6 separate regions of the Homo sapiens genome follow, and regions 1, 3, 4, 5 and 6 are each reported to be linked to region 2. Evidence: microRNA targets listed by miRTarBase, many of them from high-throughput screens and not tested one by one. Region 2 holds a microRNA gene; each other region holds the end of a gene's coding sequence. Distances are from middle to middle.
Evidence for each region. Region 2 holds the annotated microRNA hsa-miR-30c-5p (UGUAAACAUCCUACACUCUCAGC, at 1,619-1,641, opposite strand). A microRNA usually pairs through its seed, bases 2 to 8, with sites in the 3' UTR of a target mRNA and lowers its output. Matches are read on the target gene's strand: a 7mer-m8 pairs with bases 2 to 8, a 7mer-A1 pairs with bases 2 to 7 and ends in A, and an 8mer does both.

Region 1 (5,000 bases), not on the chromosome of region 2:
AGGAAGTGGTGGATAGTGAAAATCCATCTGATGCAAAGGCTGGGTTAACTGAAAATCTGTTCTGGGATGCTAGGTCTTTCAAGTCTGAAGACTGCAGACCACATTTGGTATCAACTTTCTGAGGCTGACCTGAGAACCTACTTAAGCCATTAAAGGTTTTGAGGGCGAAAGTATTACTGAAGAGGCCAGCAGTGTACCCCTTAAAATGTATGTGTAACTTGGTCGGGTGCAGTGGCTCACGCCTGTAATCCCAGCACTCTGGGAGGCCTACACGGGCGGACCACCTGAGGTCAGGAGTTCAAGACCAGCCTGGCCAACATGGCGAAACCCCGTTTTTACTAAAAATACAAAAATTAGTCGGGTGTGGTGGCGGCACCTGTAGTCCCAGCTATTTGGGAGGCTGAGGCTGGAGAATCGCTTCAACCCAGGAGGTGGAGGCTGCAGTGAGCCAAGATCGCGCCACTGCACTCCAGCCTGGTGACAGAGCAAGACTCCGTCTCAAAGAACAAAAAAGTATATGTAATGAATAAAGCTTTAGCAATTTCCTGTTCCCAGTTCTGCCTCCCTCCCCAGCAAACTTTCTAGGTAGACCTGTCCTGTATATTGTTAGCACTAGAGAAATTACCTGTAAGATGATATCCTCAAAATATTACAAAATTAAGGAACATTCTATATATGCACAAATTGAAGAAGTCAGGTAGTTGATACTTTTAAAGGTACATAGTCAATTTAAGTGGTCAAAAGGTATTTGGCAAAACCTAATTTAACTCAAGCCCTATGCATAACGTTATTGCTGAACCACTGGCTAATGCAGCATGTACTGTATTTCACTGATTGTAATACCCTAATTAATGTCACATGGTTTAATTAGCGTTTTTTTTTGTAGTGGTACATAAAATGACGGTGGACCTTCAATCAATGGTGTTTTACATAATCCCCAACTAAGCTTTATTTGAAACACAACTTCTGACCTGTAATCTAGAAAGGGGTGGGGGAGTATGTATATGTATGTACACCAAAACCTCTCCCCCAAAGATCTAAAGCCATTCTAGGCCTTCAGCTCAAACTAGGATACTAGTAGAAAGTACAGAAAAATGGTCTAATGACCTCCCCACCTTTTGAAGTGACTGTCAAATGAGACTATTAAAAACCACTTGAAAACTTTTAAAAAGCAAGAATAGCCTGAGACCTCCTAGAAATACAGATTTAATTGGTGTAAGGTGGGGTTTGTGCAGAGTATTAAAAACGCCCCCAGGCGATTCAAAAGTATAGCCAGATTTGAGAAACACCCTTAGCTGGAAAAGAATTGAGGAGCTCTGTTTTGATGACTTTTAACATACACTCCTTAGGGCTGGCTTAAAAAAGGAGGTTAACTTACATTAGCCTCAATTCCCAAATTTTACCTAGAAATGCTTCATAAATTAGGTAATTTGGGGTTCATAAGCAAATACAGCAGAGTAGGGAGTTATCAAAATAGAGTGAATTCTTCAGCAAAGGAGGACAAAACTACCATAAGGCATTCTGGATGGTCAAAGTGCAAAAGAGGTTGGGGAGTGGAGGAAGAGACTGATGACAGGAATATTTTGCTCTTGTTTTAGCAGGCTTACCATGCACTCTTCAGGGGAAGACTGCTCTATGCCATATTACACCTTGATTCACAGCTTTACTAAATGTAGTAAAAAGCTGTAAGGAAGAGCAACCTGATAGTAAAAATTGACCCCAATGAATGGTCCTTAGGAACAGATCCTATGAGAAGGCTAACCGTGGGAATCTAATTTAGGTCTCTCAGTTTTTACACCTACATTCTGGTTTTATTGTTTTATTTATTTTTATTTTTTTGAGACAAGTCTTGCTCTGTCGCCCAGGCTGGAGTGCAGTAGCGCCATCTGAGCTCACTGCAACGTCCGCCTCCCAGGTTCAAGTGATTCTCCTGCCTCAGCCTCCCGAGTAGCTGGGAGTACAGGCATCTGCCACCATGCACGGCTAATTTTTTGTATTTTTAGTAGAGAGAGAGAGGGTTTCAATATGTTGGCCAGGCTGGTCTCGAACTCCTAGACTCAAGCCATCTGCCCACCTCAGCCTTCCAAGTGCTGGGATTATAGGTGTAAGCCACCACGCCCAGCCTGCATTCTGGTTTTATTTCCTTTTAATTGAAAGGAGTGTCTTGGTTCTGCTGTCTTATTAATCATCCTGAACAATGGCTAATAGCTTGAATGACTACTAAGACAGGAGAGCTACACACACACTATGTATTTGTACCTTACAAATAGATGTGTGGAGGCCAAATACTTCAGTATTTAGCCAACTCAATAATCATAGTCCCTACAATTTAGCAAATGATCTGCAGCCTTGCTGCTCTGATCTACAAAGCTCGAGACTTCTTCTTGTTTTTTAAAAGTAAGTGGCAATTTCAGAAATCTTCAATGGTATTTTAACTTTCTACCATGAATCTCCTTGCTGTTAATACATTGTATCACAGTTCTGGAGTAACAGGGAGGAAAAGTCCCCAAATTAAACTTTGTACAGTGTGCTCCCAGATGCTATTCTCTTGTTAAAATATTTGTTCATGGAACTATTAATCCAAAGTGCCTGCTATTTCACAAATCAGCTTCATAATATACAAAGGTTACTACTATTGAGAAAGAGCATCTGACATGCTTTTGATTTGAATAATTACTACCTCAAGAAGTGGATGAACAGGGAAAATGGTATAATATCAGGTATGTGGAAACACTCTCATGGGGAAGAATGCTACTACTTTGAGACAAAGTACCTTAGGTGAGAATATTGTTTTAGTGCTTCTATCTATAGAAGAGTTCTATGGTTCGCCAATAGTTTTTTAAGTTAATCTACTGAAAAGTACAAGTCCACAATCCCTTATCCAACCCCTTGGGCTTATTTGCATTTTGGAATTGTGAATTCTGAAGAATTTTTTAAAGCACCCAATAGCGGTCATAGTCTTATTTAGTGAATACCATAAATAGCTTCAACAATTCAGATCAGGTTTTTCTGCAAAGTGAGAGATGACAATATTCTTTTCAGTTTTTTTAAATTTTAGAATTGCAGGTTAAGAGACTGTGGACCTCTATAAATTCATGTAGGAATAGAAACAAGTCATCCGAAATTTAAGAGACCTTCCCTGAACCATCCCTCTTTTTGAAAAATTTTGACTCTTATATGAGAACCACTGAAAGTTTAAATATTAAAACAATAAATCTTTATTAAACAGTTTTCACGGCATTTTAAAATAAATTTAAAAAATAAATATTTGCATTATAGCAGAAAGTCACATGTATTGCATCAACTCACTTTTACAATTTAATGGCATGAGACAACTAAGCATCAGCACCATAAAACTGTTAAGATTTGTTTCTTAAATTCAAGGAAATAGCTCTAAAGCACTGCAGCATCAATAATTTTGAAAGCTATAACCCAGTGATTGGTGCTCATAGTAGCCAATGTTTCTTTTTATTACTGGCAACTGTGGAGACAGAGTTCTTCCAGTACTAAATATTAATAAGTTCTCTGATCGACAATCCCCCATCTATCAGTGTGTCAGGATTCACAAAGAAAAGAACTGCAGGTTATGTAGTATATTCCCTATCTGTGATTTAGGTTTGCACAAAGACACTTATTCTAGCAAAAAAGAAAAGATAGTGTTTCCACCATGCTACCTTTTTTTTCTTTTTATAGAGTCTCAGAGTAAGATTTAAATCATAATTTTTAACCTTTAAAAGTCTGTTCAAGTTCAATTACAACCATAGAAACTGTACTGGTATCAGAACATAACTATTTTATTACAAAACTTAACATTATTTACAAAATGAAAAAATAATCAAATGACTATTGCAGGCCAAAGTTAAAGGTTTTTCACTCAATGATTGAAGAAAAATTAAGCAATATTTCCATGCACTCACACCAGATCATTTCTGAAATATGCAAACTCTTAAAATTCATGTTAGTAAAACTTTAATGTATTCATAATACTTGCTATGTTTATTAGAAGATGGTCAAAAAAAATCCATGGTTCTGTACAATAATATTAACAGTTTGTTCATTTTCCTTTAATATTTTTTGGCTTCCATGAACACTCGTAGATTGAACATTCTGCAAGTAAGAATTATAATAGTACCTCTGTCACCTTGCTGAATTCATCACCACAAGAAAAACACAAATAGTTTAATGCTTTTGCACTAAACTGAATAGTTATAACTCCAAAGTTATATTAAACTGAAGCCTTCATTGTGATCAATAGCTTGGATCAGTTTAGAGCGTAGAGTTTCTTTTTCTGTATATTTTGGAAGATCCAGAAGATTAAAACAAGTATGGGAAACTGGGAGATACTCCTCACCACCTCCTGTGGACTGGATGACTAGTTTCAGACTCTTCATACCAAGAATAGGAATGCGATCACTACCTGTCAAAAATACTGCCAAGAAAGAAATCATTCAGTCAACCACTTCAAAACAAAAAGATACAGTAGCAAGTAATATTTGGTACAGTCGCTACAGCAGAGCTTCACTTTAACATCTGCTCTAACGTGTTATCTTACTTCCTAATTTGTGGAAGACAAGTTTTTTGAGACACATTCTAATTGCTCATCCACACAATATTTTTTCTTTAAAAGTATAATCTTAATACTGGCACAAAGGAAGTGCTTAATAAATGTTTGATAAGTGAGTATTTTGCCATTGCCAAAACATTTTGAGAGCCCTTTTTTGGAAAAGCCATTCAGAACTAGTTGACAAACCAAATACAAAATGCAGTTTTGATTATGATTTCTTTTTCTATTTGCTTCGTTTCTGTTATTTTTTTTAAATCAGAAATTTATAATGGGCAGCCAAAATTCAAATCATTCTTTTTTTTTTGAGACGAGTCTTGCTCAGTTGCCCAGGCTGGAGTGCAGTGTGCGGTCACAGTCACAGCAGCCTCGACCTCCTGGGCTCAAGCAATCCTCTCTACCTCAGCTTCTGGAGTAGCTGGGAGCACAGTCACCAAGC
Region 2 (5,092 bases):
CAGAACTTTACCCTCAGAGGATGCTCAGTGTTTGATGAATAAATAATGATTGACAGAGAATTTGGATTCAGAGCTCATAGTACAGAGTTCTCTGCAGCCTCACATGACCCCCAACAAACATGAATGCTACTGCTCTTAACACTACTACTGGGGAGAGAAAGAGTCCTCTGATTACTATCGTAAAAAGAGAAGGTCACTTAACACAAATATGGGACAGAGAAATGACGGGGAGAAGGAGTATGCAACTTGGCAATGATACCTAATCTCTCCCTTTAAGGGCACAAATTCCACTTCTCACACAGACACACAGACAGCAGGCATGGAGTTCACTTTAGCACCTCTACTCTTCATAAGGCATTTCAGACATTTTTTTTTCCCTTCTAAAATTTCTGAGCTAATAGGGATCCTGGAGAACATACTGTCTAGTACACTTTCCTCATTTGACCTTTGAGAAAAACAGGGTCCAGAGAGATTAGGGTAACATCTCACCCCAGTAGCTGAATCTGGGGAAAAGTTCCAGTTTCCAGACTTTAAATCCAGTGCTCTATAATGATCTGGCTGCCTCTCTGCCCTCATCAAGCTCTGCCCATCCAAAAACCTAAGGGGCACTGTCTTGCTGGATGGGCATCCTCAGCAGCTCACAGACCTGGCCCTGCTGAGGCTGTGCGATGATGATCTGCCCAGGCTGGATGGTGGTCGTGGAGCTGGTGGTCTGCTGGCCTTGCTGCTGGCCCTGGACTTGGACAGCGGTGGGTTGCTGAGCCAGCGTGAAATAGTACTGGACTGGCTCGGCAGGAGTTACAGACTGGCGCACCTCCTCCTGTTGGGTGGAAAGAGAGGCAGGTAAGAGGAAAAGAACCAACTCAGCAGCCGCCACAGTGAATTTCCACTCTTCCCCCAAACAGGCTATGTGCAGTTGCCTGCTGAATGCTGAGCTCTCCACATTTGAAGCCAAAGGAAAGTGGAATTCAAAGAGACCAGTTATGCTAAATCAAACTAAAAATAACAGATCCTATAGGCTTCACAAAACATACAGCCAATTTCTGAAGTACGAAATAATCACCCATTGCATGATAAGTTGCAAACGGGCAAATAAGTACCGTAACTAAAAACCACACACCAGCAGTGCTTGTCAGTAAATGCTGTCAAGGCCTGTGATCTGAGAACAGTGCTAATTGCAAGTGTTGGGAAGATGCTACCCAAACATCATGCCTCTCAGGCCTGGTCCCAATCTCCCAAATAGGCAGCACTCTTCTCGTTTTAGCCCCACCACTTCAAGGGGGACAGAACAGGTTAATGGGAAACAGGGCTTTTCCTGAGCTGAAATTTCAGGATCGAGAGCACTGGTAGGCAAGTACCCAGCTTTTCACAGCTTGTTGAAAGCTCTGTGGTCACTGAGGGCATGTCTATCCAGTGTCACATCTGGTTCTGGTTGTACTTAGCCACAGAAGCGCAACCCAGGGGGCCTGATGGACAGCTCTCCGCTGGGGTACTGCCTTGGCTGATTAGGGAGGTCGCATTCTGTCCGATCTGCGGAGTGGAGACTGTTCCTTCTTCAGCTGATGTTTTCCATGGCAGAAGGAGTAAACAACCCTCTCCCAGCCACCTTGAGCTCACAGCTGAGAGTGTAGGATGTTTACACACACTACAGCATGGTTATAGCCCACAGGGTCCAGGGTTGATCAGCCCCTGACCACTGACACAGAACGGCGTCTGATCCGGAGTGACCTGTGTGACACATGGTGCCCCTGCCTGGGACAACAAAAACAATAAAAACACAGAACCACTTGGGCTGGCTGAGTAAAAATATTAGCTAAATTTACTCATGTCCTTATTCAGGGCAAAGTTTGCCACGTTCCAGAAAAGAGGAAAAGACACTTCTTAGATGTACACAGACCCTGTGGATTGCCTCCAACTCCCCAAAGTAACATTTACAAAGCTGGTATTGACCCCATCCCCACACTATGTTAGGTGCCCTCAACTGTGCTTCCAAAGTACTGTCCTCACAGTATACATTTTTGCACTTGCATGTCAAATTAACTGTCTGTTCTACTAAAATGTTAAGCACCATGAGGGCAAAGCCTAGCTCTCTCTTGCTCTCTGCTATCCCCCGCGTTCCCAGGTAGGCACTCAGTAAGTGCGTGATGAATGATGAATGGATTTAGACAGGCAGACAGTTAGAGGCAGGAAAGTAGTTCTCTGAATCCAACTTGCTGATATGACAAATTCTCTTAAACCCAACAGCTGTTACCAATAGAAAAAAGTAGTCTCTAAACTCTCTTTTGGTACCTCTAAGACTCTGTGGCCACAGTGTGAGGAAGCAGCTAGTGTCCCCTGTGGAACAGAGCTGAGTATCCTTTGTTTGCCTGATGTCTGGGGGCTAGGATACTAAAACTAGGACTGCCAGTATCTACCCCTGAGAAACATGGGTCTCTGCATGACATGGTTACTTGACAGCCATCTACCCAGCTTAGGGAGATACCTGTAACATTCTGGGTTTCTAAGTTAATATATGAACTGACTTTTTAGGTTGATATAGTCTGTGCTTCAGACACAAATAGTTTTAACCCTCAATATGATTATGCTAAGGCAGAAGGAAAAGGAGATTCCCTTTTATTTTCATCTAGGTCTCAATTTCCACAACAATTTCAACCCCAACTTATCATCATTATAAATAAATGTCAGCCTGGAAACTAGGTATTGGCTGTGGCAAAGCTAAAATACTGATACCTTTTGCAGCCAAGAAACAGAAGCCAACTGCTCTTTGCAAAGCTATTGAAGTAGGTTCAAGGTACTTGTGTTCCACTGAGATCTCCCTTATTATTTTACAAAAAGCACAAATCACTGAAATCCAGACCTAACTTGGAAAAGCTCTTGGGTAATGAGAGGGTATACAGGAATGAGAGCCTCAGAACCAGCTGTGTAGGAAGCTAGGCAGCAGGGAGACACCTGCATTTTCTAGCCGTGACCTGTGATTGTTTAGTCTCCAGTTATCCCCAACTACAGCTGATCTAGTATTGAATATGATCTTTTTGTCAGACAAAAAGCAAACCCTTTAAAAACCCCTTCCAGAACCCAAAATATCTCTTGCCAAAAGCTGTGAGAGCAGGACAAGAGCTCCTCCTATGCTGCTTACTACATCCTCTTAAACTGTTTATGAACTAGACAGTATCTAGGACACTGAGAATCAAGTGGAGGCACCTAGGTTTGTGTTGTTAGGACAAGGCACAACTGTTCTCAAATCACTGGAATGGAAGAAGGCATATCTAAGGCTCTTCTGCATTATGAAGACTCATTCTGCCAATGGAGGTCAAGCCAGCAAGGAAATGATTATGCTTGGTTTAAAGAAATGGGTGAAAAGATAATGACATTTCAATGGGCAGGAACTTTCAACTCAATAGCTTTAGTGGGGCAGAAGTCAGGCCTCAACTACCTCCTACCTTCAAATAATCTTTACTTGCTTCTCTGAAGAACAAGCGAAACTCTCAAGTATCTTTGAGAAGTCAGGGCCTTGGACTCACAATTCAGTATTTCTGACTAGTTCCTTTTCCCAGCAGTGGGAGGTTGCCCCAAGTGGCAGAACAATGCTTTAATGACTGGATCAATCCAGAATGGGGCACTTGCTCAACTTTAGCAGTGGCCTCCCCAACTACAGGGCTTGCTCTTGGAATCTTTCCAGAAGCTGAGACTGACGAACAGTGCCAGAGAAGAGCAGCATCACATCCTAGGGCCATCTCTACAGTGTTGTGCAACCAGCCCTGACTGGAAAAAAGTACATTCGCTTTAGTAGCAAGAGTGAACTGCTGCCTCCTTCAGAAAGGGTGGGTTTTGGAGAGTAGGCGTTTTAAAGGACTTTAGGAGGTGCCAGCCAATTTGAAGCCTGGGAAAACTTCATGTCTACAGAGGATTAAAAATGCTATCTTAGAATTTCAGGCCAGCTTTCAGCAATCTCAACCTTTCAAAGGCCAGGCAGCAGCTGTCCCGAATACGATGCCAATCAATGCCTCGAACACCTACAAAGAACTAAATCCAAGCAACAAGAAGCTGTTTCAGCTAGACACACTTTAAAATCAGATGGATCATAGCATTTTGAGTCTGGCTAAGATGGAATAAGGAGCTGTATGACACCCCGAGAGACCCAGAAGCACTGAGGAATTTGGAGGAACTGACAGGATGTGACCCTTCTCTCCAGCCAGTGTATTCAGCAGGCAGCCCACAGAAAACAAGGAGTTAGCACAATGAGAGTGAGCAAGGCCTGATTTCATCACAGAGCTCACAATCTTGTTTTAAAGGGGGCTTCTGATAGACAAAAGGAGAAAACAATTTCAACAAGGAAAGCAGGTGTATGATACTCTTTGTTCTGAAGGAAGATAAATGGCCTGAGTTCTTGTTGTGACTTCTGAGAGAGGAGGGAAGGACCCCCAAGAGGAGGAATTGAGCCTGTGGGCACAAACCTGCAATGTTTCAAAGCCGGTGCGTAGCTGGGGACGACCGTGGCAGCCTGCCGCTGTAAACATCCGACTGAAAGCTCCTCTGAACACCTTACAGCTTCCAGTCAAGGATGTTTACAGTAGCAAAGACTGCCCAGAAAGAACGGAGACGCAGTGAGGCACACCCTACTCTAGTAAGGAGGTGACAGAGGGCTTGCTAATCCAAAGGCCCTCATGCAGGGTCAGAATTACAAATGTTCATTAGGATGCCCACTTCTCCTAGACTTTCTCTGACTGGTTATTAATACAGGCTGGGATGGGGAGAATGGCTGTCACTGAATGACTGCTTCTAAGGATAATATACTATGAAATAATTCATTAAAAATAAAGTTTTATATAACAAAGCAAGCAGAACAAGGCACAGCTTTGCTCCTGTGAGATTCTGCCACAATTTCCCAAGTGGCACCTAGTGAATCATGCAATCTGCATGCTTAAAACAATGAGCTCTAAAGGACAGAGGTCTATTACAATCACAATTAAGAGCTATATGCACCCAAGGTGCTGAAAAAACAACTAGTGTGACCTTTGGAGAGGGGCAGGCAGAAGAGACGGGAAGGCAGACGTTCATATTCTTTCTTGTGATTGCTTGCAAAACAGCTCAA
Region 3 (5,092 bases), not on the chromosome of region 2:
CAATGATAAAGCAGTTTTTTTTTTTAATGTTGCACTGACAGCAGGAAGTACACTACCTTAACTTAGGAGCAGCATTCCTACTAAGCTGGTAACCTGTTTGTGGAGAATAAACATTTTTCACTATCCCCATTTCTTTCAACGTACCCCTTTCAAGAGTTTACCAAACTCAAATTTGCTATGGTTCTTTCTTATTTCATGTTACATATTCAAACAAACAAACTGTATATATCTCCCCAACTGTTTCTTAATGTACTATTTTAGAACTGCTTATTCCAAGTATTGAGCCCCTCTGTGGCGTTTATGGCCTGAAAGTTAAAAAGCTGGTCACAAAAACTGAACCATCACATTTTCTCTTACTCCAGCCTGAACATACACTAGAATCCAGGGTAACAATTACACTATTTTCCTCCAAGAAAAGCATGTAAGGATGGGGTACAAGGAATAAATAAACATTAAAAGTCCCCTGGATAAGCACAGACTGACTAGAAATAATTTTTTTAAATGAAAAAAAAAAAAAAAGTCCCCTAGGCCTTGGCCAGCTGCTACTCATTGGCCACTGAAACTTGCAGTCTCAACCTCTCCACCTGTAAAATGGCATTATTATTGATTGGTTAAGGCTATTTTTAGATAATGAACTTAAGTGTTTGGTAAGTTTGAAGTTTGTACACAATTAGAGGATGAGTATGCTATCTCAGAGCATCTGGAAATAGGAATGAGATCTGTCTATGCTGTGAATGCCAGCACAAATCACTTCTAAATGCCTTATACCAAAGACTAGCCATTAATAACATTTACCAAATGTCAAGCAATTGTGCCAGCTGCTCTACTTGCATTTTTTCACTTAATCCTTACGACACTTTGAAGTAGAGAGATGTTTCTATTATCCTAATTTTATAGTTAAAGAAAATGAGATTCGGAGCTCACTTGCTGAAAATCACCCATCTCGTAAGTATTGGAGCCAACATTCAAAATCAAGTCTGCCTGTCTTTAGAGCCAGTATTCATATGACCACAGTGCCATACACTACACCTTCTTAATTTAAGAAATAAATACAAAACCACAGAATTAAAATACATGCTTTCCAGGTTAAGATGGTAGATGAAGCACGTATACCTACCTCCACTCCCTCCCAAAAATCCCATTAAATGACGGTAAAGGTTTTTGTTTTAAGATATAAACCTAAAAGGATGGAAGAAAAGAGGAAACAGGAATAAAACGTTAGAAGCTGGAAAATAGGTAGATCAACAGTAAATAATGTAGTAGACTCTGAAAAACTGAATTCTGAGCCAGCGGTAGAAAAAGAAAAAAACCCACAAGAACCCCCAAACAACAACAAAAACTCACAACCTAATTTATATCATGGAATCCCTAAAAGGCTCAGAAACTAGTGGCTTCAGGTGCCTCTAGCAATAAGGGGTAGAAGGGTAGACATTAAAATAAGAATTGGTGCAAGGTTTAAGTAATCAGATGCTCTCTGCAACTCTATGCAGCAAAACAGCCTCCATTACACAGTACCCTCTCAAAATGATAGTTTTTTTTTTTAGGCCAGGTGCAGTGGCTCACACCTGTAATCTCAGCACTTTGGGAAGCTGAGATGGGCGGATCACCTGAGGCCAGCAGTTCGAGACCAGCCTGGCCAACATGATGAAACATCATCTCTACTAAAACTACAAAAATTAGACAGGCATGGTGGTGTGCGCCTGTAATCCCAGCTACTCAGGTGGCTAAGGCACAAGAACCGTTTGAGTCAGGGAGGCAGAGGTTGCAGCGAGCCAAGATCGTCCACTGCACTCCAGCCTGGAGCAAAACTCTGTCTCCAAAAAATAAAAAGTTTATTTTCTGAAAAGGGTAAAATAGAAGGTCTCTAGATTATGGGATGCCAGGCAGTTTGGGCAGAGGTACTATACTCAAAACAGAGACGCAGTGAGCAAATACATACTGGATATTGAAACACACACACACACACCTGTCTGTCCTGAGCCTCACCACAGCCCTATTCCTTTGAATCCCAGAACGTTGGCAGGGCCTCATTCAGCACTTGGGAGATTGGAAGAGTCTTTGTTCTCTGAGCAATGACCAGCTCAATGGGAAATAACTAAAGATACAGACGCAAAAAGTTTTCTCAACAAAAATGGCCCAATAGATGGCCCTTTGGCAAAGTTCAACATCAACAAGCTCCACTCCAGGCCTTTAATCCATGTTAGTTCCCAATTTTTAAGTGTGAGCAGACAACCAAGGAAAGCATCTAACATGAAACAAAAAAAGAGAAAAGCAATTACAGATAAAATAGAATATAAAGGAAAAAGAAAACATTAAAAGTACTATTGTTCTAAAAAGAGAGCAGAAGGAAAAAGAAGGGGAGGAAATCAATAAAAACCTATAAGCATTCATTGGTGGATGCTACAAATTAATACGACTGAACTCATGGAGACAGAGTAGAATGATGGTTACCAGAGGCTAGGAAAGGTTAGGGAAGGAATGCAGGGATGGCTAATGGGTACAAAAATATAGTTAGATGTAATGAATAAGTTCTAGTATTTGATAGCATAATGGGTGATTACAGTCAATAATAATTTACTGTACATCTAAAAATAACTAAAAGTATAACTGGAATGTTTGTAACATAAATAAATTATAAATGAGGTGACAGATAATCCCGTTATCCTGATGTGATTATTAGGTACTGTATGCCTGTATCAAAATATCTCATGCACCCCATAAATATATACACTTACATACCCATAAAAAATAATAAAATTATTTTAAAACCTACAAAATTTGAGAAATAAAGATACAAGTTTCAAGTTTAAATAGGTTCACCAAGTGCCCACCACAGTGTATTAAAATAAACACACACTAAATGATGTCATCATGGAATATAAGCATACTAGGAACAAAGATCCTTGTTTCTCAGGAAGAAATACTTAGTCCCACAAAAAAATCAGGAATCAGAATGATTTCAGATTTCTCAGCAGCAACACTGAAAGCTAGAGGCTTTGCTTTAAAATTCTGAAGGAAAATGATTGCTAATCTAGAACCCTATATTCATCAAACTATAGAATAAAGACATTTTTAAGGCCAGGCACAGTGGCTCATGCCTATAATCCCAGCACTTTGGGAGGCTGAGGTGGGCAGATTACCTGAGGTCAGGAGTTCGAGACCAGCCTGGCCAACATGGCAAAACCCTGTCTCTACTAAAAATACAAAAATTAGCCAGGCGTGGTGGCACGTGCCTGTAATCCCAGCTACTTGGGAGGCTAAGGCAGGAAAATCGCTTGAACTGGGAGGTGGAGGTTGCAGTGAGCCAAGATCATGCCACTGCACTCTAGCCTAGTTGACAGAGCAAGACTCCGTGTTAAAAAAAAAAAAAAAAAAAAAAAAAAAGACATTTTTAGACCAGCAAGGTCATTCACCTCCTATGCCACCTTTCTCAGGAGGACACTGCCAGAGAAAACAGGCTCCATCAAACAAGGGAGTAAACCAAGACACTAGGTAACAGAAAACGAGATATAATAAGAGAGAAGAAAAGGAATTCCCGGACAATAGTGAAGGGAGTTCCCAGAATACAGTCACATATCAGGCATAGAGAAGGGAGTTCCCAGAATATAGCCACACACATCAGGCATAGAAGGCTATCAGTCCAGTCAGGGGCGGGTCAGAAGACTCCAGGAAACGCTTACTCAGGAAAATGAAACAGAGTACCTAATAAAGCTGATTGCTGTGAATGATTTAGATAAATGGCAAAAAGTTTAGTTGATTTAGTGGAAATTCCATAGAAAAACCAAGCCTAGAAAAAAACAAAAAGATACACAGCAAAAGAAAACCAGGTACTATACTCAGAATCCTAATGATACTAATCTACTCAAGATCACACTACGTTATCCTTTGGAAGGAAGAGATGACAAGATACGTGTGAGTGATGGCGCTAAGGACAGGAAAGAGACCTAAATCCCAATCACGACCGTCACATTATTTAGAGACCAAAAGGTAAATACCAATAAAATCAGCTAAAAAGAGGTGTATGTAGTTGCTCCTGGGGAGAAGGTTAAGGACTATCCCCCCTCCACTCAACAAACTTGGAGAACTATTTGGCTTAAAAATATAGTACTTTTTCCTTTGGTAGTATTAATATTTCATATACTCAGCATCAAGCAGTAATGCTACCTTTCATTAAGACTGCCTGGCAATAAAACACAATGACACTTCATCAGGATTGGCAAATTCTCTAGTCCAAAACAAGATGAACTTACTGAAGCTTGCAATAATCTCAATATAATACAAGTCTCACTAGTGATTGTTGGTTTGCAGCAAAAAGTAGGATAAGAAAAATAGAAACCCAACTTTTCTTAATTGATATGTTTATTAAAAACATAGACTAATAATGATCCTGTGCTTAAATGTCATTGTGGTTGTGTGCTGATTTCCACAAAACATAATATAAGAGACTCTTCACAAATACACTCTGGGCAGAAGAAAAAGGTAAACAGAAATGACTGACAAGACAGTGCCATTTCAGACACAGCTCCCTTAATACTTGCTAGAAAACGGAGTTTGACATTATTTACAATTATACCAGTATTGTCAGAGGCCAAACGTCACAGGGATAAGGGTACACCAGATCACGAGACATCGTTTCATACTTCCCAAATAGTTTTATATTTTAGCTTTGAAGGTCAGTTACCAGAGCCAAACTTGTTCTTAACAAGCAGAATTTTATGTCCATTCAAAGAGTCTCTTACACCTTTCTGGGCCTATTCACTTGCAGAGAGGAGTCGAAACTGTAACCAGGCTCTTCATATCGTGCATTCATATGTGATGTCCTGTCTTCATATGCTGTCCAATTTCTTTAAGATAAATGGAGCTGAAAGAAAAACAAATCTAAAATTAGTTTTCAAATCTATTAGCCCATAGGCTACATTATAGAATTATCAGGTTTATTCAACATGTTTTTGAAAATAACTCCAAGTGATGGTCAAGCATGTGCCTGTACAGCCCAGCAAAAGGGACTAGTTGCCTTCCAAAGCAGCCCATTCCACTGTCATTCAGCTATTATTGTAAATTTCATTCTTATACTACATAAAACCTTTTCTCC
Region 4 (5,088 bases), not on the chromosome of region 2:
ACATCTTCCCCGACCTCTTCAAACGGGCCGCCGAGCGCCTCCAGTACGTCTTCGGGTATAAGCTGGTGGAACTTGAACCCAAGAGCAACACTTACATCCTCATCAACACCCTGGAGCCTGTGGAGGAGGATGCCGAGATGAGGGGTGACCAAGGCACGCCCACTACGGGCCTCCTGATGATCGTCTTAGGGCTCATCTTTATGAAGGGCAACACCATCAAGGAAACTGAAGCCTGGGACTTTCTGCGGCGCTTAGGGGTCTACCCCACCAAGAAGCATTTAATTTTCGGAGATCCAAAGAAACTCATTACTGAGGACTTTGTGCGACAGCGTTACCTGGAATACCGGCGGATACCCCACACCGACCCCGTCGACTACGAATTCCAGTGGGGCCCGCGAACCAACCTGGAAACCAGCAAGATGAAAGTTCTTAAGTTTGTGGCCAAGGTCCATAATCAAGACCCCAAGGACTGGCCAGCGCAGTACTGTGAGGCTTTGGCAGATGAGGAGAACAGGGCCAGACCTCAGCCTAGTGGCCCAGCTCCATCCTCTTGAAAGGTGGATTCAGAGGGACCCCCGGGACAAGGGTCTGAGACCCAAAGGCACAGTTTAGAGGATTGGGGGAAGGGAGAACGAACCCAGGGAGCATATTGCTGTAAACGCTTCAATGTGTGTAGCTTTAGGATGTGTTTGCAAAGTTTTGTTTTTTTAATGTTGTGTTATTTTGCTCCAGATTTTCATCTATAAACAAAGGAGCATTTGTTTTGATTTTACTCTTTTTGGTATAAAAAATTTTGCTAGCTTAGTAAAACGAATTGGAAAACTTGACTATGATCTGGAACAGATAATGCAAGAAGGAACACATAAGTAAGTTGCTTTGGTGCCAAGAAAATAAAAAAGCTATTATCAGGTCTCCTAACTACCCCAGTTTGTAAGGAAAAATAAAAGTTTTTATAAAATTAAAAAAAATAATTGCCTATATCCTTATTATGTTAACCTATTTTATTTTTCTATATTTCGTACATATATAAGTATTATTCATGGTTCCAAGCAATGAGTGTAATGTATTTTCTCCCAATAGTAATTGTTTATATTCATAATTATTCAGCTCTGCTGCTAAACACGTAGTTCCACTTCGTTTTTTTCTTCTTGCTACTGTAGTTATTACAATAAATACTGTATTTTTGAAGCACTTAAGCATTGTGTGTTTTTTAAATCGTGGGTCATGAGAGAATTTCATGACTGGAAATCAACATCTTAAAGTTTTTGCTACATATTAAGGTCAATGCTGTTTTGTAGAAGTTGTTTCACTTTTGTGTGAAACAAAATCAGGATCATGAGGTGAAATATATTTCTCACTGTGGATCTCAAAAAGGCTTATAAAACAATAGCGTAACCATTAACCATGCCTGTTTGGGAATCGGACTGTCTGGGTTGAGATCCTGGCCCCACCATAACTAGTATATGAATTTACATAGGTTCCTTAGTTTGTATGCAGATGTTTCTTGACCTGTAAAATGGTTTTAGTCCGTGATGTGGAGAATTTTATTTGTTATTCTTTAATGTTTTTATTTTTTATTCTCCTTGGTCTGGAGCTGCCACTTTTTAAATATAACTTTTCTTTATCTTTTTTTCCAAATCATTCCTAGGAGAGCAATTCCTGGTTCAAAAGATAGTCCTCTAGTCTCACTCTATTGTATGGGGAAATATAACGTGTATGGTGAGTGTGCCCCACATAGAACATAAGAGCAGGACATAAGATCTACCTCCTAGGGAGTTAGGTATAGGGAAAAGGGTATGGGTCTTGGGGCTGTCTGGCAAACTGAATTTGAATTACGGCTCATGCTAACTTGTCAGCATGGTGGTTGTGGGGGTAGGTTTTAAGCTCTCTGAATCTCAATTTATCTGTAAAATGAGAAAAATAATAGCTATATAATAGTTTTATGCACTAAATGAACTAGAAGAGTTCATAGTCCCATTGTGTTCCTCCATTACGTGTAGCAGATGCTGTTTTTAATGCAGAGATTCAACACGTTTTATTCAGTGGGCAAATAAGTTAATTGTTTTAGGGGGAGGTGCTGCAAATTAACCTTGAAATAAGGCAAATATTTTTAACTCGGGGAAAAAAGTGAACTTCATCAACACTGGACGGAATGTCATTTAAAAGAGTCTATAGTGAGTATGGAGGAATGTGATAGGTTACTGGGTTTTATTTCATTCTGTTGAATTGGGATTTGCATTTGTTTCATCAGTGGAATATGTTTGGCCCTTACAGGCATTTCTTCTTGATCTGCATTTTATTTCAGTGTATAAACTCCTTCCTGCCTCCTGGTCCCCTTACCTCCCTGACTCAGCTTTCTCCTCCTCATGCCCTCTGATACTCGCATTCTCACCTGTATAATAAAAATTATTACCCAGCAGTCACCACCAGTTATATCTGAGGCAAAATTCCCCCCGCTTTTCTCAGAGGTGTTAGCAATTTACCATCGATAATCTTGTTTCAAATTTTAAAATATGAAACATCAGAGGCCACATCAAGGCCTTATATCTTTTCCTTCTCACCCTCCCCAGAGGTAACAAAAGTCTGTGGCTATCGGGCTGTTGTATGACTTTATAATTTTACTATACATGTATATATACATAACCAATATAGAGTTTTATTTTGTGGGCTTTCATGATTTATATAAGCGGTGTTACGTGTGTCCTTATGCAACTTGCTGTACTCACTCACCATTATGTATTTGAGATTCAGCCATGTGGATATATGTAGACCTGATTCACTCATTTTAATTGTTCTTTTATGGGGGAAAAATAACTATCCATTCCTTAATGTCTGGACATTTAAGGTCTTTCCAGTTCTTTGAGATTTGCAGGCATTGTACAGTACTTCTTTAGGCACATGTGTGAGTTTCTCCAGCCAGAAACAAATGGAGCAATCAAGGACTATTGCCAAGCTGCTCTTGAGCTTGTGTCAAGTTACACTCCCATCAACATTTTATACAGTTTTGTTTTGTTTTTGTTTACCAATCCCTCCACCTTCACCCCCTGTGAACACTTGGCCTTTTCAGTATCTTTTCAGCCATTCTGGTACAGTGTGAAATGATAATTTATTACGGTATTAACTTATACCTGTTGCTTACTAGTAATGTTAAGTATCTGCCTATCTTTTGCTCTCACTCCTTTTTGAGTGTCAGATTTCATGTCTTAGACCTATTTCTATTGATTTGTAAGACATCTTTATATGTTCTACATGTTAATCCATGGTCTGCTCTATCTATCTAGTGCAAATACCTTCTCCCACATTTTCACTTCTTTTGGTCATACAGATCATTTGACCTAAATGTGTTACGATCATTAGTGTTTATAAGAGCTACATTTGTGTATAGTGCTTTAAAAAATTCCCCTAATCCTAAAATTGTAAATATGTTTTCTGCCTTTTTTCCCTAAGTGTTCAAAGTTTTGATCTTCACATTTTATGCTTTTAATCTGCTTTTGTGTATGATGTGAGGTATGGAAATAGTTTTTGTATTTTTCCTATATGGATAGCCTAGCACCAGTTTTTCATCATTTATACTTTCCACACTGATTTATGACACTCAGTATTTTGTAGCAATGTCCCATGTATAGATAAATTTATGGCTAGGACTGAATTGGTTTATTTGCTATCCATTTGCAAATACCATACTGTAATTCTTTTTTTCTTTTTGAGACGGAGTCTTGCTCTTGTCGCCCAGGCTGGAGTGCATTGGCACAATCTTGGCTCAGTGCAATCTCTGCCTCCTGGATTCAAGCGATTCTCCTGCCTCAGCCTCCTGAGTAGCTGGGATTACAGGTGCCCGCCACCACGTCCGGCTAATTTTTGTACTTTTAGTAGAGACGGGGTTTTGCCATGTTGGCCAGGGTGGTCTCAAACTCCTGACTTTAGGTAATCTGCCCGCCTCGGCCTCCTAAAGTGCTAGGATTACAGGCATGAGCCACCTCGCCCAGCCTATAATTCTTTAGCATCATATGCCTGTCTTCTTTTTCAATTCTTAAAGCCTTTTATTTTAGTCTTTTTTGCATTGGCTGAAAATGCAATATATTATTGAAAAGAAGCAGTTACAGCAGGCTCTAAGGATGTTTCTGATTCCTTATTCTTGATTTTAAAGGAAATAATTTTAAGTTTTGCCATAGAGTGTGATGTTTGCTGTTAAGAGTTTTTTTCCCCTATAAATACCTTTTATTGGGCTATTTAGTTACCCCTTCAGTCCTAGCTTGCTTAGAGATGTTCAGAAAAAAAACTATGAATGACTTTGGATGTATATATGCTCTTTATTTACCTGCTAATATGATTAAAATGTCTTATTTACTCTGTAAATTTGTTTTTTGGGGCATATAATTTGGTGTAATAACATACAGTTTTCTGATATCTAAACATTCTTGCATTTTGGAGACAAACAGTTGTTGATAAAATTTTTAAATACATATAGCTCAAAATGTATAATTTTGCATCTTTTGACATAAGGGGGGGTTAGTCTTTAATTTTCCTATATTATCATTATTTTTGAGGTTATGCTAATTTACTTAGAGATAACCTCAAATTTACAGAAAAGTTGCAAGCCCAGTGCAAAATAATTTGTTCCCTGAACTATTTAGTTATGTTTCTTTAGTCTCCTTCCTATTGCCAGTAGTTCCTAAGTCTTTCCTTGACTATTATGACCTTCACTTGAAGAATACGGGCCTGTTTTCTGTAGAACATCCTTCAGCTGGGGTTTGTCTGCTGTTTCTTCATGATTGGATTTGAATTATGCATCTTTGGGAAGAATATCACAGAAGCAATGCTGTGTTATTTTTGGATCCTATCAGGTGGCACAAAATTTCAATTTGTCCTGTTATTTTGAAACCTTGATCACTTTGGTTAAGGTGGATTTCTGTCATGTGCCTCCACTGCAGAGTTTTCTCCTTTAAGGTAAACAAATAACTTGTGTGGAGACACTTTGAGACTTTGTATAGACCCATGGGTCTCTTATTATCATTAACTTATTATCTAATCTTTTATTATCATTACATATTTCAATACTCAAATTGTCCCTGATTTGGCCAGTGGGAG
Region 5 (5,092 bases), not on the chromosome of region 2:
CCAAAAAACTGCCTAAATTGTATTAAAAGGATAAATCTAGAAATCCTAGAAGCTCAACAGACTCTAAGTAGGATAAACACAAATTCAGACCTAGACACACCATGCTCAGACTGTTGAAAGCCAAAGAGAAAATCTTAAAAACAGTATAAGAAAAACAATTCATCATATATAAAGAACAACAGGATTAACAGTTGACTTTTCATCATGAATAGTGGTGACCATAAGGCAGTGGAATGACATATTCAAAATGCTGGAGGAAAAAAGTCAACCGAGAACTCTAAATATATCACATACTGTCCTTCATATATAAATTTGAAATATATTCCAAAATCCACAAAGACTGAGAGAATTTGTTGCTGGCATACTTGCCTTACTTGGAATACTAAAGGAAGTAGAATATAGATGAAAGGAAATGACAACAGACCTGGCAACTAGAATCCATGGGAACAAAGAAAGAGCAGCAGAAATGATTACTACGTCAGTAAATATAAAGAACTATAAATATACATTTCTTCTATTAAATTCTTTAGAAGACATATTGCTTTATTGTATAAAGCAATAATTATAACACTGTAATATATACATATATACATATACATATATATATATATACACACATACATATATAAGACATAATAGCACAAAGGAGGGGCAAGGAAATGAAGCTAAACTGGGGCAAAGTTGCTATATTGTACCAGAAGTTAGTCAATATTCATGTGAAGTAGGCCGTAGTAAGTTAAGATACCTATGATAAGTAGAGACACCACTTAGAAAAATAGCTAAAAAAAAAAAGGTTAAAAAAACTAAAATGGTACCCTCATAAATATCTGTTTAATGCAGAAGAAGGCAATAAAAGAGCAATTCAATAACGAAAGATACACAGTAACCAAATAGCAAAATGGAAAATGCAAACCTAACAAAATTGTAGTAAATTTTAATGCACCTAAAAACTCCAATCAAAGCTTCTCTGATAAAAAAAAAAAAAGCAACATCCAGCACTATACTGTCTTCCAGAGACTCACTTCAAATTAAAAGATACAAATAGGTTAAAAGGAAAAAAACAGAAAGACATGCCATGCAAACAGTAATCATAAGAGAGCTGCAGTGGCTGTAGTAATTATAGACACAATGGACTTTTAAAACAAGAAATATAGTAGATACAAAGAGGGATATTTTAAAATAATAAAGGGCCAATTCATCTGAAAGGCATAACAGATATAAAGGTATATATACCTAACAACAAAGCTTCAAAATACATGAAGCAAGAACTGACAGAATTGAAAGAAAAAAGTTTAACAATTACAGCCAGAGATTACAATATCTCACTCTTAATAACCAGTTGAACAAATAGGAATAAAATCAGCAAGGCTATAGCAGACTTGAACAATGCTATCAACCAACTTGAACTGACATTTTTGAATACTCCATCCAAAAAGAGCAGAATATACATTCTTTTCAGGTGCATGTGAAACATTCCAGGATAGGCCATATGCCAGGCCATAAAACAAGTCTCAAGAAATTTAAAAGGATGGAAATCATTCAAAGTATATTATCTGAAAACAAGTAAATTAAAAATAAATAAGAAAGAAACTTTGAAAATCTGCAATTCTTAGAAATGAAGTAACATACTTCTAAATAATCTGTGGGTCAAAAGAAAAATCGCAAGGGAAGTTTGAAAATATTTTGAACTAAATGAAAACAACAATACAACATATCAAAACATATGAGGTGCAACTTAAACAGTGCTTAGAGAGAAATTCAGAGCTTTATACATCTATATCAATAGAGAACAGTTTCATATCAATAATCTAAACTTTCACTTTAAGAATCGATGAAGGGCCAGGCGTGGTGGCTCATGCCTGTAATCCCAGCACTTTGGGAGGCGGAGGTGGGCGGATCACTTGAGGTCAGGAGTTCAAGAACAGCCTTGCCAATATGGTGAAACGATGTCTCTACTAAAAATACAAAAATTAGCTGGGCATGGCGGCACACGCCTGTAGTCCCAGCTACTCGGGAGGCTGAGGCAGGAGAATTGCTTGAACCCGGGAGACGGAGGTTGCAATGAGCCAAGATCGCGCCACTTCACTCCAGCCTGGCGACAGAGCAAGTCTCCATCTCAAAAATAAATAAATTTTAAAAAAAAGAACAAAGAACAGTTAATTAGACATAAAGCAAACAGAAGGAAGAGGGAAAAATCAATGAAATTGGCAATAGAAAAACAAGAGAAAAGAGAAGAACCCAAAAGTTCTTTGGGGGAAAACAAATCAACTAATCTGATAAACCTTTAGATAGACTAAGAAAAAAATGAGATGACACAGAATACCAAAATCAGGAATGAAAGGGGGACATCATTATCAAGCCTACTGAAATGAAAGGATTATGAGAATACTATGGCTAACTGTGTCAACAAATTAGACAATTTAGATAAAATAGCCAAATTCCTCAAAAACCAAAAACTACCAAAACTGACTAAAGAAAAAATGGAAATTATGAATAGCTCTATAACAAGAAAATACATTACTTAAAATCCACACTTCTGCACCACCCCCACCACCAGCCCAGGCTAGATGCCTTCACCTAGTAAACTCCATCCAATATATAAAGAAGAAGTAATACCAATGCTACACCAATTCTTTCAGAAAACACAGGCAAGGAAACACTTTCCAACTCACCCTATGGGACTGGTATTACCCTTTTACCAAAGCAAGACAGAGAGCATGGGAAAACAAGAGACCAATATCTCTCAAGAACATACACATGAAAATCTTTAACAAAGTATAAAATAAAATAAAAATCCAGCAACATTAAAAAAAGGGCTAAATATCATGACAAAGTGAGATTTATGTGATCATGATATCTACAGGGCTCCTGCCTCCCTTTTGTTCTGCCATGACCTTTCAAACCAATGTACACCACTAGTCATAGTTTGGCTGTGTAGTCCCTTCATTTGCACACTAATAAGTGGATACCTTCATATTTATCATAATAGAATTAGGTTACCTTGTCATACACCCTATACCACACCCTATCTCCAACCAATTGGATATAGGATGTATGACATAAAGTAACTTAATCCTATTGAGATTATGAGTATCAAAAAAGATTAAGGATACTCTAAAAGGAGCAGAAAGCAAGAGAACTTCCAATTTCAACCTTAATGTTGAGAGTTTAAATAACTGACATGGATTTTGAACCAAGTGGAAAAGGTAGGTGAGCAACGAGCCTAGATTCTAAGTTTACTAAAAACAAGGGCTTAAAACGATCAAGCACCAACCAGATCCATAGGGAGCATAAACTTGGCTGTTTTAGAGTTTTTTTCTAGAGTGAGAGATGACAGCCTAACTGTTGGAGAAGGAGCATTGTATCTTCAGGAATACAAGTGAGACTTTGACAAGATGGTTTGTTCCTTACTATAGCTGTATGTGAATTCAAGCACTGAAGTCCAGGACCAATTTTTAGACTTATTTATCCCTGGTCAAGAGTTAAGGTGACAGAGCTTTCCAAGCCCAAAAAGTTTTCCTTCTCGGTTCTTGCTTTTAGAGATGGTTATCAGGAGGAGGAGGATGCATCTTGCCGTCTCCCCATCACCACCTAAGTTATCTGGCTCTGGGTGGAAAAATACACTAGATTAACCCCCAAATACAATCCATAATATAGTAGGTGTGGGAGATGTGAGAGAAAGCTATAGTTAACTGTTTTCGGAAGCACTTGCATACAGCTAAATGTTCATACCCATCGCTAGGGATCTGAAAAAGAATTCACCTAAAAACAATGATATTTAGGTAGTCATTCATTTCTGCATGTATTCTTCAGTTTAGAATTATAACCTTTAACCTAGAGCATTAATTAGCCAGTTCTGCACTATAAATGAATGTAAAAATCTAATCGTTTTACATTTTTTGCTACATGACAAAACTTATCTCAATTTTTCAAAAGGTCGTATTTCAGATGAAAAAACAAATGTGAAGCCATAAAAGAGACAAAGTTTTTGGATGTCACAGATGATCTGAAATAATGCAAGTAAGAACTAAAAAAATTCAGACTAATATTTAAATAATAAAACCAGGACATAGCTATGTATTTTGTAGTAAACCCTGGAAAACCTCTAACTGAAAAAAAGATCAAAATTTTGAGTAGATATTGCTAGGAAAAGTCTATGTAGATTAAGTTCATAGCCTCATTAAACATGACTAATTTCAAAAACTAAATCTGACTAACACATACAAATAATCAAAATTTATGTTTTTTTCTGGGTGAATTTCAAACATGATGCCAATATGACATTTCTGTATTCTGAACCACAAAATAATTCATAACAATTCTACAGACCATATGCAAGTTTATTTAAATAAGTTAACACTGCAGAGTGAGTCAATTTATAAGTATAAAAATAGATGGTTTAGAAACCAAAAATAAGCACCACACAAAAGCAGATTATACATACACCATCAGGCCTTTGGAATATTAAGGCAACATAAATATCTCAAGCAATTTTAGAAGAATGCTTTACTTATATAACAGATGTTATTAAAACATCTCAAAAGAGGCAGGGCTCACAATTTTTTTCAGTATGAGGTCTTCCCTTCCATTTTTGTTAATATATTAATGATTCTTCTTAAATACTGTACCATAATTAGTCTAGATTAACAAATGGGCTATCAAAGCCACTATCTTGTTGGCTAGATAGCGGAACAATTAATTTTCTTGAAGGCTGCTGACACACTGAAGATGGTAATGTACTGCTCAGTTTTTTGAAATCTGACTTTAATCTATCAGCCTTATGACGAGATGGGTGTCCACAATTCACACTGATCTTTCCTGGCTCCAAATACGTGGTTTCTTCTGACAGGTATGGAGTTTGATAACGCTGACATTTCATTGTTTGACAAATCATATTACTTTCCTCTGTATCTGAAAGATAACCGGATGGTGAAAACTGTTTGGATTTAACAGATTCACTTGGTATTTCCAAAGTTCCTTGTGGCCTACCATGTACAAATGATGCTTCACGACTGTCAAAGGATAAGGTTGCACTGCTGGAAGGCCAGCCCAAGCAGTCACTAAGGTCCCCTCCATCTTTTACTGGAGGTTC
Region 6 (5,092 bases), 74 Mb from region 2:
CGCACATCTTGGTGAAGCTAAAAATGCTTTGGTTTACCAGAGTTTTCTGCAGAGGATAAGGATGAAGAGCAGAAGCTACCCTCTCTAGAAATCAAAGGTAGTGACAGGTCCCAAGTAGGAATTAGGAGCTAGTGAAATGATAGCATGACCTTCTATTTATCCCCGATTTACCTCACTTACGGAAACAGCCCTAAGGAAATGTGGGGCAAATTCTACCTTAATACTTCAAGTAGAAAATACACGACCACCAGATTCAGACCCCAGCAATACCACATCCAAGTTGTCTGAATTTGGACAACTTTTAGGAATTTTGTGAGCCAGAGTATCCTCATCTGAAATATATGGATGTAGGCAATGATACCTACCCTACAGATTATTGTGAGATAACATATACAGGGCACCCAAGTAGTACCCAGCTACATGCTCAATAAGTAATTTCTTTCCCCCTTTCCTTCCATTTCTCTAGAACTGTAAGATATCCAGGAGAGGAGATTAATCAGAGTGAAACGATTATTAGGAATTTTTTAAATAAAAGAAATAATAGTAAAACTGTGGGAACCAAGAAGAATATAACAGTGAATTCCTTAAATGGAGAGGACCTTGTTTTTTGTTTCTCCTTTGTAATCCTAACACTTGGTATATAGAAATTACTCAGTAAATTACTACTACAAAAGAGTATCATTGCCTACATCCTACATGTAAATGTTTGTTAAATGAATAAAGTAGTATTTAAGGAAATTCTCAACTAGTGGATTTTTTGTTTCCATAAATTTTTTAAAATTAAAATAATGTTTTCTGCTCCTGGCTCAAAATAATGTGTTGTTGTAATGCAGTTGGACAGTAAAAATACCAGAAATAAACATGCCTTTTTTTTTCCAGCTTGAAAATAAGGAACTTCGAGAATTATTGTCCATCAGCAGTGAGTCTCTTCAAGCCAGAAAGGAAAACTCAATGGACACTGCTTCCCAAGCCATCAAATAACTGAACTCTGAATGATGGCTGGAGATTGTCTATCAAGGAAGGAAGTTACTGTCTTCCCATTCAAGTACTGTCCATTAAGTGTCTTGCCTCAGATTTGATTTAATCTTAATTAAAGGTATCAGGTGGCAATTTAGAATTCCAGTCAATATTGGCTGTCCACAGTTCTCAGATGTGTTAATGTGAATACTACATGCTGAATTTCACCATTCCTTTCTCAAAGAGACTACTTTTAATTTTCATTTCTGGGACCTTGATTTATATAAACTATGTTTTCAGTTCTTTGTTATTTTTCACATCTCTGAAACTTTGAGCATTTTTTATAAGCCAGCAATTTATTTTACATAGCATTGTAAAATACACTTCTAGGAAATTTTAGGAAAGATTTAACTGTTTAAATCTATTTGGCATAAACCTTGATTTTTTTTTTCCATTTGACAAAAATAATACAATTCCACAGAACTAGATCAGCAGATTCTCTGATTTGTAATGTCATTCACCTGTGACATTTTAAGTCTCTCTGGTGCTAAGAATTGGCACTTTATAGCCTGGTGCCTTTACTTTTAATTTGAGAGAACCTACTGCTAGTCCCAGGAAACACACTTGGAAATAAGTCAGCTATTTTTTTTGCCCAGTGATGCTATAGTTGTCATATTGTCCAAAGTTCATATTGTTCAAAGCTGAGGAGCTTGTCCTGTGTATGTGAATGCACACATGTGCACTTAGTTCAAATACTAAAAGTAGCTTTTATTAAATATAATCAGCCAAAAACACACACAAAATAAAAAAAACAAATATAAGTAGTCAGTTTTTCAATGTTATCCTACTAGTTCTACATTCTATTTTAATTTTTATACAATTTCCATTTTATAGTTAAGAACCATCACTTACTTGGATTGGATGTCTTTCATTCCTAGCACTAATAGTTGGCTTTCTTTTTTTTTGTTTACATAGAAGCAGGGTTTTTTTTTATCTTTTTTCTTTTTTTTTGTTTAAGCTATATAAAAAGGTGAGGAAGCAGTTTTGTTACCTAATGAAAATTATTACACTCATAATGCTGTGTAGGCAACATTGAGATTCAAATGCCCAGTGGTCAACTGGGTTCACTCATCAACTCATTCCCGTCCCAGTTTACTCACATTTCAAATTTATAAATTTCTTCATGTTATACTATTCTATTTAGATTTGCCCAGAATTAGTTGAAATAATGCTAAACCTGTCAATATTTTCCAGTAACATTAAGCACCATACTGCATGGGAGAGACACAGTACTAAAAAGAGTTGTTAGTGCTTTATGTGAGTGATATTTCTTTCGTAATGCTATAAAGAACTACAGTTAAAATAACAAAATATTTTAAAGATGTCCTAAAAGCATCTGATCCCAGTAATAACTAATGGATGTCATCTAGAGCAGTGGGTGTTAATGAATAGGTATATGTCATTTAAGAATTTTTCAAATTTCTGTTTGATATCCTGCATAGAATTTGACAAAAAAAACACTTCCAAGTGTGAGCATTTTTTATTTCATTTCCCAAGAGTAAGTAAGTAACTATTAGCCCAGCCATCTGCCTCGAAGTATACCTTAAGTGACCCCATAAATCCATTCAAGAGGCAGGTACTCTATACCATTTGGCAGCCACGGCCAAACCTACCATGGCCAGATTTCAGTGAAAATGATGAAGTAATCAAATCAAGGTATAATATGGTGTCCCTTTATGTGCTTTATGTTCCTTTAGAGCTGTTTATAAAGTTCTTTATATCTCAAGTGTTAGGATAAATCGACATACTAACTTTTCCCCCTGCAAAATTAAAAGCCTGAGGTACAAGTCTAAGAAGCTTTTAGTGCTCTACATAATATAAATTCTGGCTGGTGTTAATGCTATGAAGATAATATGTAGTTAGAAAATTGAGTCGGGGAGGAATGCTCTTCATTTTAAGTGGATTTTAAAGTTTCTCCTTGAGTGGATGAAGAACTTGCCTGGTTTGCAAAAATCTTAGTTCAAAATTATATTTTCTAACAAAAACTGCATTTTGAGAAGATAAGCTAATTTTACTCAGTAGTAAGTCAAATGAGGAAGTGCAGAGGGTTTTTTTACATATATATAGCAACCTTGTCAAGTGGTCCTCACAAGAGTCATAAATACTTTGTAATTAGCACAGTATATTCAGCAGTGTATAACTCTACAAATAGTACCTTATATTAGTGTAGTATTATATCAATATCTTATGTATAATTCTTATATTAATACCTTATGCATAATTGGATTCAAACATTGAAGGTCTATTTTAGTGTTCTTCAAAATGTGCTTCCCTGACCTACTGAAATAGAAACTTGGTGATGAAGTTCAAGAATTTGTATTCTAATCATCTCAAACAATTCCTAAAGACACTGATTTTAAAATATCTAGTCTAGGCCCCATTGTGTAATAGTTAGCACTCTAAAAGATGAAAAAGAAAATAGTCTATGTGCCAACCACTTCATTAGTACTTATGAATTTAAAAATGAAAAAGTCTGGTACAGGAGACAAGTATATATATAAAATTATAATGCAGTGTGATAAATCCATTATAGTATGTATAAGATACAGAAGAGGGACTTTAAACTTGAGAATTCAATAGAGATAATAAATGGGTAGGAGGGAAATAGAAAACTTTGGTGCCACAAAAGCAAAGTATGTATGGTATTGCCAATAATAGCTACCATCTATTGAGTGCTTTACTACCTGTCAGGTACTGTATTATATAAACTCCATTTTAACTGTACCTCATTTTGCAGATACTCAGGCACAAGGAGGTGGTTATTTGTCCAAACTGGAACCAAGATTCAAACCCAGACAGAGTCTTAAGCACATTTTTAATCACTAACTAACTTGAGATGCCTAAATGCCAAATACTGTTGGGAGTTCAAGTGGTTCTTGATTAGCAAAATCTATTTTTATTAGTGCAAAAGAAACACCACAGCTTATAAAGTATTATGAATTCAATAAATGGAGTCTTAACTAATGAGATATTATTTTCTAGAATGGTGTAGCTGAGAGTATGTGTGATTCAACTGAAAGGAATAATGTTTAATCAGTGACTCTTACTATATACAGGAAAAGGTGCAGTTCTGTCTTTCAAATCTGCCTCCTTACCATATTGGCTTACATCCCTCATGCTGTTTTCTTGTGTTTGCTAGAAAGTTGTTGCCAAGCCAAATGTCATGGCCATGTTGAAGGCAAGGAAGAAAAAATGGAAATGGCCTGTGCCAGCTATATATATCGCCTTTTATGAGGGAAAGCAAAGCTTTCTCAGAAATCCCAAATGGATTTTCCCTTGACTTAATTGCCTGACCAGTTAAATGGCCACTGGTACCTGCAAAGAAAGCAGGGTACATAGCTGTCCCAAATAAAATCAGTATTAGCAAGAAGAAAGAATATTGAGAAAGCAATTAACAGTGTCTGTGACTGTGACATGTCTGTGACTTTATATTGTCAAGTCCTTTCCCCTTGAATATAGTTTTGGAAGAATTAGCTGAAGGAGTGTGTTGACATTGAATGGCCAAGAGAATGGGCTGTAGCAGACATCTGTCATTTCTCTTTTGGCTGCCCAGTATCCTAACTCCTGTGTTTAAGGAATCCCTCACCTAATGAGGCAGAGCATTTCTTCCTCCTAAAGAATTTGAAAGTACCAGGTAATGTTTTCTCAGCCTCCTTTTGCAGCTAAGGAAGAAACATCTGCCTTCAATTTTAAAATTAGTGATACAAAGAAGGAGGGAACCATGCAGATTCCTTTGAAGATGGTGATTAACAACACTACTGCATTCATCTCCACAGAGGTACAGCAAAAGTGATTTAGTTAGCGATAACCTCTAATTCTATTTTTTTATTTTTATTTTTTGAGACAGTCTTGCTCTGTCAACCAGGCTGGAGTGCAGTAGCACTGTCTTAACTCACTGCAACCTCCACCTCCTGGGTTCAAGCGATTCTCCTGCCTCAGCCTCCCAAGTCGCTGGGATTACAAGTGCCCACCACCATGCACAGCTAATTTTTGTGTTTTTAGTAGATGGGGTTTCTCCATGTTGGCCAGGCTGGTCTCGAACTTATGACTTCAGGTGATCCGCCCGCCTTGGCCT

Region 1: the mRNA of HERC4 is a reported target of hsa-miR-30c-5p. The part of its 3' UTR that is shown has no 7-base or 8-base seed match.
Region 3: the mRNA of TOMM5 is a reported target of hsa-miR-30c-5p. Seed matches in the 3' UTR shown: 7mer-m8 at 4,480-4,486.
Region 4: miRTarBase lists NSMCE3 as a target of hsa-miR-30c-5p. Seed matches in the 3' UTR shown: 7mer-m8 at 3,017-3,023.
Region 5: the mRNA of CEP152 is a reported target of hsa-miR-30c-5p. The part of its 3' UTR that is shown has no 7-base or 8-base seed match.
Region 6: miRTarBase lists SIKE1 as a target of hsa-miR-30c-5p. Seed matches in the 3' UTR shown: 8mer at 1,922-1,929.

What each region holds. Positions count from the first base shown.
Region 1 is chr10:67,918,711-67,923,710 of GRCh38, forward strand. HERC4 (HECT and RLD domain containing E3 ubiquitin protein ligase 4) reads right to left here. Exons shown (of 25, transcript NM_015601.4): 25 at 3,195-4,429. The coding sequence ends at 4,221. Among named protein-coding and RNA genes, the nearest start is that of SIRT1, 37 kb to the left of the region's middle.
Region 2 is chr1:40,753,849-40,758,940 of GRCh38, reverse strand. MIR30C1 (microRNA 30c-1) reads right to left here and starts at 1,657; the gene lies at 1,569-1,657. It overlaps NFYC (nuclear transcription factor Y subunit gamma), which reads right to left. Exons shown (of 10, transcript NM_014223.5): 6 at 647-820. It overlaps MIR30E (microRNA 30e), which reads right to left and starts at 4,586; the gene lies at 4,495-4,586.
Region 3 is chr9:37,584,072-37,589,163 of GRCh38, forward strand. TOMM5 (translocase of outer mitochondrial membrane 5) reads right to left here. Exons shown (of 2, transcript NM_001001790.3): 2 at 4,342-4,861. The coding sequence ends at 4,827. Among named protein-coding and RNA genes, the nearest start is that of TOMM5, 6.0 kb to the right of the region's middle.
Region 4 is chr15:29,264,257-29,269,344 of GRCh38, reverse strand. It overlaps NSMCE3 (NSE3 component of SMC5/6 complex), which reads left to right. Exons shown (of 1, transcript NM_138704.4): 1 at 1-4,356. The coding sequence ends at 554. The region is part of intron 2 of ENTREP2 (endosomal transmembrane epsin interactor 2); the gene reads left to right. Among named protein-coding and RNA genes, the nearest start is that of NSMCE3, 3.0 kb to the left of the region's middle. RefSeq lists an enhancer at 1-228.
Region 5 is chr15:48,733,616-48,738,707 of GRCh38, forward strand. It overlaps CEP152 (centrosomal protein 152), which reads right to left. Exons shown (of 27, transcript NM_001194998.2): 27 at 4,323-5,092. The coding sequence ends at 4,634. Among named protein-coding and RNA genes, the nearest start is that of CEP152, 75 kb to the right of the region's middle.
Region 6 is chr1:114,770,160-114,775,251 of GRCh38, reverse strand. SIKE1 (suppressor of IKBKE 1) reads left to right here. Exons shown (of 5, transcript NM_025073.3): 5 at 880-5,092. The coding sequence ends at 981. Among named protein-coding and RNA genes, the nearest start is that of SIKE1, 8.0 kb to the left of the region's middle.